Homo sapiens: one gene and its partners. The protein of the gene in region 1 purifies or fractionates together with the protein of each later gene. This does not show direct contact. Each region holds a gene or a part of one and is shown in the gene's direction. Other genes may lie near its edges.

Region 1 (3,747 bases):
CCATGCCCCGTCCCCACAGACCTGACCCGCATGATCCACATCCTGGACACGGAGCACCCCTGGGACCTGCACTCGATCCCCTCAGAGCACCACGAGGCCATCACCTGCCTGGAGTGGGACCAGTCAGGTGAGGCGCTGGTCCCACGTGGCCAGGGGTGGCGACCCGGATCCCGGAGCAGGGGGGCCCTGTGTTTCTCCGGTCAGTCTGGAGTCCGGCGCTGGGTCTAGAGCCCCTGGTCTGCAGCTTTGCACCTGCTGCTCTTTCCATAGTGGCCCGAATCATTCTTGTTCAGGGTGTCTCAGGGCATCTCTGGAGTGCGCCTTGTGCCACCTGCTGTGCCCTACCTGGGCCGAGACCTCTCCACTGGGCTGGCTTCCCCCAGGCGCTGTGCCGTCCTGCAACGCAGTGCTCTGCCCATCCCTGGAAGGTTCGCAATGATGGCTTCTTGCCCTCAGGCTCCCGGCTCCTGTCAGCAGATGCCGACGGGCAGATCAAGTGCTGGAGCATGGCGGACCACCTGGCTAATAGCTGGGAGAGCTCAGTGGGCAGCCTAGTGGAGGGGGACCCCATTGTGGCCCTGTCCTGGCTGCACAATGGTGTGAAACTGGCCCTGCACGTGGAGAAGGTGAGTGTCCTGCCCGAGTGAGCGGATGAGGCAGATGAGATGTCACCCTACCCAGCCACCCGCCAGCCCCTCTCCTCTCCATCACCAGCATCCCCTGGTTTTTTGGACCTTGCACTTGGCTCCCACCTGCAGTCCGGCTGTCATTAGCACCTGTGTGTTCAGTGGCCTCTCATTTAACTGAGGGTGGCTGTTCACTTGGCCCCCACCTGCAGTCTGGCTGTCATTGGCACCTGCGTGTTCAGTGGCCCCTCATTTAACTGAGGGTGGCCGTTCTTAGTGAGTTATCTCTTTCACTGGAGGCTACTGTCCTTAGGTAGCTGCATGTATAACTGGTGGCTGCTGTCTTCTGAATGCAGCCCACCCTCTGATTTAGTAACATCCCAGAGCCCCTCTCTATGCTCCCTGTGATTCGGCCCCACAGGTAAGAGTAGGCGTGGCCAGGGTTGGGGGGGACAGTTAAGATAGGCGTGGCCAGGGTTGGGGGGGACAGTTAAGAGTAGGCGTGGCCAGGGTTGGGGACAGTTAAGAAGTAGGCGTGGCCAGGGTTGGGGACAGTTAAGAGTAGGCGTGGCCAGGGTTGGGGGGGACAGTTAAGAGTAGGCGTGGCCAGGGTTGGGGGGGCACCTGGGTTCAGGCTCTGACTCCTCACCTCTGTGTGTCAGTTTCCTCACTGACGGCAGGGTCTCGGGGATGTTCGTGGCAAAGGCCTCACAGCCACCCCAGCTTCGTGCCTCTGTGCGTCTGCTTGTGCTGGGGCTCTCGCAGGAACTAGGAGGCCTTCCTGGAGGGATGCAGTGGACAAGATCTTTTCTCTCGTCCCTTCGTGAGTCCCTCCCCAGGGACTGCCATTGTCGGCGCATTGCCGCAGTACACGCAGCACCGGCTTCGTGCCACGGGGGCCCTCCGGGGTGCACTCCCCACCCTGCGGTCCCCGTTTGTCTGTATTTCCTGTTTTTGGTAACAGTTTTGTCGGGATGGAGTTCACAGACCTTAGAACTCACCCATTGAGAGTGTGCAGCCCACACGGTCCAGAGGTTTCGTATACACTCGCCATGTTGTGCGGCCACCACCATAGCTAACCTCAGACCTTTATCTTTTTTTTTTTTTTTTTTTGGAGACAGAGTCTCGCTCTATCCCCCAGGCTGGAGTGCAGTGATGCGATCTTGGCTCACAGCAACCTCTGCCTCCTGGGTTCAAGCGATTCTCCTGCCTCAGCTTCCTGAGTAGCTGGGATTACAGGCACCCACCACCACACCTGGCTAATTTTTGTAATTTTTTAGTAGAGACGGGGTTTCACCATGTTGGCCAGGCTGGTCTCGAACTTCTCACCTCAGGTGATCCGTCTGCCTCAGCCTCCCAAAGTGCTGGGATTAGAGGTGTGAGCCAACGAGCCCGGCCAGACCTTTATCTTTTTTGTTTGTTTGTTTGTTTTTTGAGACAGGGTCTTGCTCTGTTGCCCAGGCTGGAGTGTAGTGGCGCGATCTCGGCTCACTGCAGCCTCTCCCTCCCGGGCTCAAGCGATTCTACTGCCTCAGCCTCCTGAATAGCTGGGATTACAGGCGCCCGCCACCACGCCCGGCTGCTTTTTTGTATTTTTAGTAGGGACCGGGTTTCTCCATGTTGGTCAGGGTGGTCTCGAACTCCTAACCTCAGGTGATCTGCCTGTCTTGGCCTCCCAAAGTGCTGGGATGACAGGCGTGAGTCACTGTGCCCAGCTTCAGTCCCTTCTCATCACCCGAAAAGGAAACCCAGTCCCCATCCTGCATCACCCTGATCCATCCCCCACCCCAGCCCCCGAGACCCAGTTGTCTCTCTGGATCTGCCTGTCCTGGACATTCATAGAAACAGGATCACACACTGCGTAGCCTTCTGTGTCTGGCATCTCTTACTGAGCGTGATGTCCTCAAGGTGCATCCCCGCTGTGGCCTGAGTCAGAGCCTCGCTTTTTAAAATAACCAAATACATTTTTTTTGAGACAGAGTCTTGTTCTGTCAACCGGGCTGGAGTGCAGTGGTGCGATCTCGGCTCACTGAAACTTCCACCTCCCAGGTTCAAGTGATTCTCCTGCCTCAGCCTCCCGAGTAGCTGGAATTACAGGCACGCACCACCGCGCCCGGCTAATTTTTGTATTTTTAGTAGAGACGGGGTTTCACTATCTTGGCCAGGATGGTGTCGAACTCCTGACCTTGAGATCTGCCCGCCTCGGCCTCCCAAAGTGCTGAGATTACAGGCGTGAGCCACCGCGTCCGGCCAAATTTTTGTTTTTTAATTACATTAATAAAAGGCACATGTGCTCCTTTAACATAGTCTCAGACATGCCAGCCTGCGACCCACACAGACGTGTGGTGTGGACACCAGATGAGTCGTCGCCATGGCAACCCCTCACCACCAGGCCTGGCTTGCTTCCTGGACTTCTGGACCTGCTTCTTGCTATAAGAAGTGTTTTTTTTTAACTTGTAACTTAGAATGGAGCCGTACGATACGTATGATACACTTCTCTTCCTCGCATTTTTTCACAACGTAGAGACATTTTTCTTGTTCTTTTTTTTTTTGTTTTTGAGACAAAGTTTTGCTCTCGTTGCCCAGGCCAGAGTGTAATGGTGTGATCTCGGCTCACTGCAATCACCACCTCCTGGATTCCAGCAATTCTCCTGCCTCAGCCTCCTGAGTAGCTGGGATTATAGGCACCCGCTACCATGCCCGGCTAATTTTTTTGTATTTTTTATTAGCAACAGGCTTTTACTGTGTTGGCCAGGCTGGTCTTGAACTGCTGACCTCAGGGGATCCACCTGCCTCAGCCCCCCAAAGTGCTGGGATTATAGGCGAGAGCCACCGTGCGCAGCCAAGACCCCATCTTTTAAAAGACTCACGTTGAAAGAAGGGTGGATGTTTCCGTATGTCAATAATGACTTGACAAATTTGATTTGAAATCAAATAGTGCCCGCAGCAGCCGCTGGTGCTTACACAGCACTTCCTGAGTGCTATAGCTCAGGTCTGCACAGTGCGGCCCAGGGCCTGACGGCCCCCGCCTGGGTTTGTGAGTGTGGCTCATTGGCACCAGCTGCCTGTGTGCCGCCACGGCAGAGCCAGAGCCAAGTCGTTGCAACAGGGACCACCTGGC
Region 2 (3,747 bases), on another chromosome or scaffold:
TCGGGGTCTTGCTCTGTTGCCCAGGCTGGAGTGCAGTGGCATGGTCTCAGCTCACTGCAACTTCTGCCTCCCGGGTTCAAGGGATTCTCCTGCCTCAGCCTCCCGAGTAAATGGGACTACAGACACATGCTACCACACCTGGCTAATTTTTGCATTTTTAATAAGAGGCAGGGTTTCACTGTCTTGGCCAGGCTGGTCTTGAACTCCAGACCTCGTGATCCACCCGCCTTGGCCTCCCAAAGTGCTGGGATTACAGGTGTGAGCCACTGCACCCAGCCTGAAGAGACTCAAGGTCTAAGGAAGTTTTCCAGGAGTGGGTGATGTAGCAAATAAGGTAAATCATTCCCCCTCCCACTAGTTTTCCAAGTTTCTTTCAAAACCTAGCAGGCAGTTCACTATTCTTTCCTTATCTACCACTTTGGGTAGAATTGACAATTCCCTTCTTTGTCCTCCTAATGAATGTGTTATGTCCTATCCTAGCACCAATCATGTTTAAGTGTGTATCCCAAACATTTGGGACATTAGGCTCACCATTACAGGGGAGGAAACCCTCTTAGGTTCTTCAGCTGGTCTATAAACTAAATTGATACCAGTCAGGTTAACAGGAGAAAAAGTTTTAATTACGTATGTATGCACAAGAGTCCCACAAAATATGAGACTCAAAGAAGGGCCAGATGTTTGACACTTATATTACATCCTGACCTCAAAAAGGAAGTGGGGCCCGGCATGGTGGCACGGACCTGTAATCCCAGCTACTCAGGAGTCTGAGGCAGGAGGATCCTTGAGCTCAGGAGTTGGACGCCAGCCTGGGCAACACAGCAAGGCCAGTCTCTTCAAAACAAAAGTGGGGTTTGGGGCTTCCAGGAGTGGTGGAGACAAGTTAAGAGAGGATAAGAGGAAAAAATGTCTAAGGTGAATAAAGGTTGACTTTTATGCAGATAAAAGTATCTCAGATGATACAAGTTGACTAGCAGCAGCTCTCTTTCTGGTAAGATTCCTTTAATTACGAAAATTTCCTTTAGAAATGTAAATTTCTCTTTACAAAGGAAGAGTTATTCTTTATTTTAGGCAGTAGTGGGATAAGTGAAGCATTTTCCTGTGTTGGCTGGATCTTAATTTATTTTGCTAAAAGACATCAATATGCCAGAGTGGCGTATTTTGGGGTGGCATATTCTGGACTCCTTCAGTTATAATTTGGGGTAGTGTGTCCTGAGCCCCAACACAATGAAATCAATCAACGTTCACCCTAACTAAAGGGGCTTTCTTAAACATTCTAGAACCTCACATCATGCATAGACCATAAAAAATCCTTTACAATTCAACCCAAAGGATCGTAAACGCGGCTTCCTCCAGGCACTTTTAATTGTCCTTAGACAGATGGCCAAAGCCTGGTTATGGGAACCGCATATGCTAAGAGAAAGCTGACTACAGCGCCAAGAAAATGATGATTGGCTGCTGGGGCTCAGAAGTTGCATGTTCTCCTCTGGCCAAGGCAGGCTCTAGGAAACTGCTGAAGGTTCAGTTTTTGAAATACGGTTTTTGCATCGTAAAGAAAAAAGATCAACCTATCAGGAAGAACCGAGCACATCCAATCACCAATCAAGAGCGGGAAAGAAGCCAAAGCCTGGGGATACCCACGCACCAACGAGGACGTCATTCTCCAGCCCCCGCCAATGAGCAGCGGGACGGGGGGCGGGGCAATAGGCGGACCCACTGCCCTAGAAAAGAAACAAGCTGCGGTACAACTGTCCTCACCAGCCCTCGCCTCCCGAGTCACTGCAGCCAACCCTTCAGCAAGGTGCTGATTTAATGCTTTCCATACTCTCTGCGTGGGGCTAGTTACAGTGAAGTATCCCCTTCCCACTAGAGTAAGGCACTTCTTTCCAGTGTCTCCCCGAGAACCGCAGAAAGCACACTGGAACTTCGAGCTTTCTACCTTCACAGGAACCGGGAGCCGTGCGCTACCTGAGGGGGAGGGGCGGCCCTGGTACGCAGGCGCGCATGCTTTGTGGGGGCGAGGCTGTGGTGGCCCGAGGTAACCTGGGAGCTGTATTTCTTACGCCGGCAAAACCGCCCAGGCCGCTGAGGCCTTCGCGACTTCATTTCCCAGGAGCCTCCGCGACCATGGGGCGGGCCAGTGAGTTCGCTAATGAGCTCGAGGAAGCCACGGCGCGGCCCACCAGGTTCCAAAACAAGGAAATGAAGGAGGGAGGCGGGACTGGGGGTGCCTGCGGGAGCCGCCGCCGCCGTCGCGGAGGAGGAGGAGGAAGAGGTGGAGGAGGTGGCTGCTGTGGCCGCCGAGGAGTCCCTTGCTGAAGGCGGACCGCGGAGCGGCGGGCGGCGGGCGGCGCGCGCGCGCGCGCGAGAGGCGGCTGTTGGAGAAGTGGAGCGGCGGTCGCGGGGGGAGGAGGAGGAGGGACTGAGCGGCGGCGGCCCCCGCGTCCCGTGCCTCTATGGGGGAAGCAGACAATGGATTATGATTTCAAGGCGAAGCTGGCGGCGGAGCGGGAGCGGGTGGAGGATTTGTTTGAGTACGAAGGGTGCAAAGTGGGACGCGGCACCTACGGTCACGTCTACAAGGCGAGGCGGAAAGATGGGTAAGAGCAGGGGCGGGAGGAGTAGGCTCGCTCGGGTCCTCGCCCTGCCCGCGACCTGGCGGGATGGGTGGGTCGGATCCCAGTCGGGCCGTGCCCGAGGGGCGAGGCGGAGGGGGTCGCGGGGTTGCGTCCGGACACCGACTCCGAGGGGCGCCCGTTCCGCCCGCCTCCCCCGCGCGGCCCCGTCGCGTACCTCGAACTCCCGCGGCGCAGCCCGGTCCGAGGCGTCGGTCCCGTCCCAGAGGGGCGCCCTCCGAGTGCTCGGAGACGGCGGGGGGACTCGAGTTGGGACCGCGGTGGAGGAGGAGTTTGTGGGGTCTAGTCTCTTGGGGGAACGCAGCGGGCAGGCAGAGCTCCGCTGCGGAGTTGCCGCTCCGGCCCTGGGTAGTGACGGTCGTTGTGGAACTTCCAATCGGCTGAGCGCCTCGCGGGGGCGGCGGTTTGAAACCTCGCCGGGGAGCCTGTCGGGCGAACGCGGCCTGGGGTCCTCGCCAGCCCCACGGCTCTGACCCGCTGGGCACCGCCGCCCCCAGCAGCGATCTCCGCCCTTCGGGCTGGCCGGCCCGTTGGCTTCTCTATGCAGTCCTCCCATCCCTGTTGTATGCCCGGCGTCCCGGGTTTCTCATTCTCACATTCTGAATTGCGTACCTTCCCCCTTCGAAGGAGACCTGATGGGCTAGCTGCGTTTCGCAAGCGGCAACTTAAGAGTTGGCTGAATTCTCTGCTACCCACCCTTTACCTTGCAGCCCCTTGGGTATCTTGGGTATTATGTCCTCCACTCCATCCTCTGCCAGATGACTGTGGGCTGGGGCTTATGGAGTACCTATATTATCAAGAACGGAATACGAAGTGACAGAGCTGGGCCTGAACCTTTGTTTTCCTAGGAGTTGAGGGAGAACTGTAGGAACACCTTGGGAAGCCTTTACTGGTTGTCCTCTTAAGAAGAGCTGGATAATGTACTGAGAATACCTGTCCTTTCTTGGTCCTGGAGGGCAGACAGCAGCTACAGCAGGACTGGTGGAACCAGCTTCCTGGCAGGAATTACCCTCCCCCAAAGCTAGGGACCCAGGAAGATGCCCTGTCCAGCATAGACTTTAAAGAGAGTCAAACTCTACGGAAGAGGATTGTAACGGACCATTTCTGAATAAAG
Region 3 (3,747 bases), on another chromosome or scaffold:
TAAGCACCTGGTTTGTTAACCATGGCCTATCCCCAGATCTCAGGAACTCTAGTGCAAGGACCCCCTGGAAATAGGGGTGAAGGTGGGTCTAAGAACAGGAAGATTACTTGGAAGTCTGTTTAAGAAGCAGGTCCCCACAGTCCTGTCCCACCTCCCATCCCCTCCAAGCGGCCGGGTGACTACCCTTCTTCCAACTTGGCAGATGGTTAAAAGGTTACTCTCCCGAGATTTATTCTTAGGAAGGAATAAGCCAGAGAGTACCTTGACTGTGGGACACCAGGCACACTGCAGGGGTAGGTAGGGGGAGCCATACTGAAAAGAGGGATTAAGAGAAAGTTCACAGTCTGAAGAGAGACACCACCCGAGCCTTCCCCCACCTGGCTTCTAGATTGGCAGCCAAAGAGAGTGGAAGTGCCCTCTCTATGGTGCGTGACCAATTAAGAGAAAAGACATTGGAAAAAAAAAAAGCCTAGTCAATTAATTCTGAGAAAATGAACAAGCATCACTCATTTGCAGAGCTTCCACTAAGCCTTTTAGTGTTTTATTCTTAAATATATGAGTGGATGGCCAAGGTCACTAAGCATAGGAAGAAACCCCCTGGTAAGAAAGACACGGGTCAGGCGCGGTGCCTCATGTCTGTCTGCAAGCCCAGCACCTGGGCAGGCTGAGATGGGAGGATAGCTTGAACCCAGGGAGCTGAGGCTACGGTGAGCCATGATCGCACTGCTACACTTCAGCCTGGGTGACATAGACTCTGTCTCAAAGAAGAAAGAAAGAAAGAGAGGAGACAGAGAGAGAGAGGAAAAAAGAGAAAGACAAGACAGAAGAGCAGAAAAAGCCACGTGGAGGAAACAGTAGCCACAAAGGAATGGAGTGGTTCTGCAGCTGTAAACATGAGAAGAGGCTAGGATCCAACCTGCAAACCTTCAGTATAGGCGTGTCTTTGAGTTTATAGGCAAATGAGGGAGGAATAAGGGCAGAGGAGGAAGGGAGAGGAGACCTCGTGAAGCCTGGGGGAGTCAGAAGGCTTGGTAAGAGTGATGCCAACAATGAGTCTTCAATTAGGAAAGGGAGGCAGGAGGAATGTTGGTATAGGAAAAACATGTAAGGACACGAAGCCAAGAAATAGCATCTACTCATGGGAGTCAGCTTCTAGCTTGGTGGTGTTGAGCATACATCCAAGGCAGGAAGAGGTGGCTGGGGAGGAGGGAAGAGCCAGGAAACAGAGTGCAGGTGTCTTCTGAGGGATGGGGAGCTAGTGAAACTGTCAGGCTGGAAGCCAGTCAAGACACAGTACTGGCGGGTGGAGATGAGGGCTGGGACCATGTCCGGTCCACCCAGGTGGCGCTCTCTGGCCCTGGGTCCCTTCCTTTCCTATAACTTCCCCAATGATCCTTTTATTCTTTGTTTACTTCTTGCACAGGGGTGAGTAAGGAGGTAAAATCTGAAGTAGTGAATTTAGCCTTTCTTGTTCTCATAAAGAATTCAGAGTTTTTGAAAAATTATTTAATAAAAGTAACAACTGCAAGTTTAGAAGTACAGAGAAACGTAAAATGGAAAATGTGTTCCTTCCCCCAAGTCCCCTCACCTGTAGTAACTGCTGTTAATACTTTCCTAAGTTCCTTCTGGGAATTACATATGAATGTCATTTCAAAAATTTATACAAATTGAGATCACGTCGTACTTGACTTTTTTCACTGATTAGTCTCTTTTGGCCACCTTTCCATACTGCACATAAAGATCTACCTCATTAAGGCAGCTGCAGAAAATTGCATCTTGTGGATGCAGCATAACTGATGGAACTGGTTTTCTGTTGATGGTCTTCTAGCTGTTTTTCTTATTCTTGCTATTACCAGCACAGTGCTGGGGTTAGCATCTTTGTGTAGGAGTAAGTTTATGATCAGATAAATCCCAGCAGTAGAATTGCTGGGGCATAGGGTACAAACATTTTTTATAGTGATAGTTATGCTAAATTTAGAGCACTACGTCTTTTTAGCTAACTCTTTTCCAAAATTCAGTCCTTGTAGACTAGACTGCTTCAGTTAACCTAAAATGGCCTATAAATCTGCCACCCAGAAAGCATTAAACAAAAATTAAAGTTGTAGACGGATTCTACAAGTACCCATGGATATGAAATGGAAACAGGGCCTCTCCCTTCACTCCTCCCAGCTCCCTTGCAAAGCTGTGTAATATTCCACTTTATGAACGTGCTGTCGTTTATGTAAACAGTTTCTTGCTCAAGGACACCGTCATTGTTTCTGCATTTTGCTGTTGGAATCAGCACTGCAGCAAGCATCTTTGCCCATGCTATCTTGGTGAACTCTTGGTAGTCTCTGTGGGGGTAAATTTCTAGCAATGGGATATGTGAATCTGTTTGGGTCACTATGAGCAAAGAATGCCCTGATCTATGCTTCCACCAACAGTTTTTGTGTCTTTCCCCATCACCTGCCATCACCATTAAACTTTTAACTTTGGCAAATCTCATAGGTCAGAAATGATATATTGATCTTTCATTAAGTTAGGTAAAGCATCCCTTCATAGGCGATTTTATATGTCACTTTTATTTTTCCCTATAAACTGTCCATTTCTCTGTTAGATTTTTTTATGTACAGAAAGGAAATAATGTGTGTCAAATGTACTGTAAATACTTCCTCCAGGTTGTTGCTTTTCTTTTGACTTTGTTCATAGTCATGGTTTTTCTATTTGTTTTTCATTCAGATGCATATAATTTCATGTAGTCAGATTTGTTAGGCCTTTCCCTTATGGCTTCTGAGTTTTGGTCCTACTTAGAAAGGCTTTCCCACTCTAAAATTATAGGTATTGATCTCTTTTTTCTAGAACTTTCATGGTTCCATTTTTTACTTGTAATTCTTTGAGGCTCCTGGAATTTATTTTGGTGGGAAGAATAAGGGGGCCTCGGTTAGCCACATCTTCCCACTGCTGTTTTTGAATATTTGTTATTTTCCCTGCTTGCAGTGCCACCTTTACCATGCACTGAATTCCCACATGTTTTCTGATCTACTTATGGACATTCTCTCCTTCTCCAGCACCAAACTATTTTAGTTCTTAAATCTTCATGGTACATTTAATTATCTTTTAAGGTTAATTTTTCACCCTTCCTCTTTCTTGTCAGTATTTCCCTGGCCCTTCCTTTCCCGTGGAGTTTTCTAGCAGCCTGCCTGATGCTAGATCATGATGCTTTTGTTAATGGAACATTTCGTCTTTAATCTGCTTCTTTACTTCCAAGCCTGTTGATACTACTCATTGGCCAGGTCGTTGAGCCTCGCTTTTGAGTATTATAATCAGCATTTAATTAGTCTCTTTGCCTTTATGCTTATTTTATCTTGTGAATGTTATTTGGCTAATTTTTCTTTGTTCTCCATTCTTCTCAAATTGAGCCCAAACTTAGGCCTTTACTCAGGGATCTCTGCAGACCATTTTCAGATTGTCTGCCTGAATAACCCAACACAAAGCCCACAGAGGGTCCTCTTGCTGCAGGTGCTGTTGGGTGGGCGGAGTCCTCCAGGCTGGCAGACCCTCCAGCCCCTCCACTAGAAGTGCCCACAGAAATGCTGCACAGAGCCCTGTGAACCAGAGCCTCTCCTGTACCCCCAGGGACCCACCTGGTTCTGGGAGTGCTCTGGCTGGGACAGCCCTGCTTGGAGTTGGAACCCATAGCACTTTCATCTCTTCTAGTGTCTTTCCCGCAGTTGAATGAAAAATTAAACTACACATTTATGTTATTTT

The links.
Region 2: the proteins of MED16 (region 1) and CDK19 purify together in Homo sapiens (affinity purification with mass spectrometry; 8 studies listed by BioGRID and IntAct, with this or other methods). This does not show direct contact.
Region 3: the proteins of MED16 (region 1) and MED9 purify together in Homo sapiens (affinity purification with mass spectrometry; 5 studies listed by BioGRID and IntAct, with this or other methods). This does not show direct contact.

What each region holds. Positions count from the first base shown.
Region 1 is NC_000019.10:886,517-890,263, reverse strand, and holds part of MED16 (mediator of RNA polymerase II transcription subunit 16), read left to right. Parts: intron 1-19; coding exon 20-127; intron 128-456; coding exon 457-626; intron 627-3,747. UniProt on the Homo sapiens protein: Component of the Mediator complex, a coactivator involved in the regulated transcription of nearly all RNA polymerase II-dependent genes.
Region 2 is NC_000006.12:110,813,859-110,817,605, reverse strand, and holds the start of CDK19 (cyclin-dependent kinase 19), read left to right. Parts: upstream 1-2,136; 5' UTR 2,137-2,469; coding exon 2,470-2,597; intron 2,598-2,790; exon of another isoform or gene 2,791-2,989; intron 2,990-3,747.
Region 3 is NC_000017.11:17,479,891-17,483,637, forward strand, and holds part of MED9 (mediator of RNA polymerase II transcription subunit 9), read left to right. Parts: intron 1-3,747.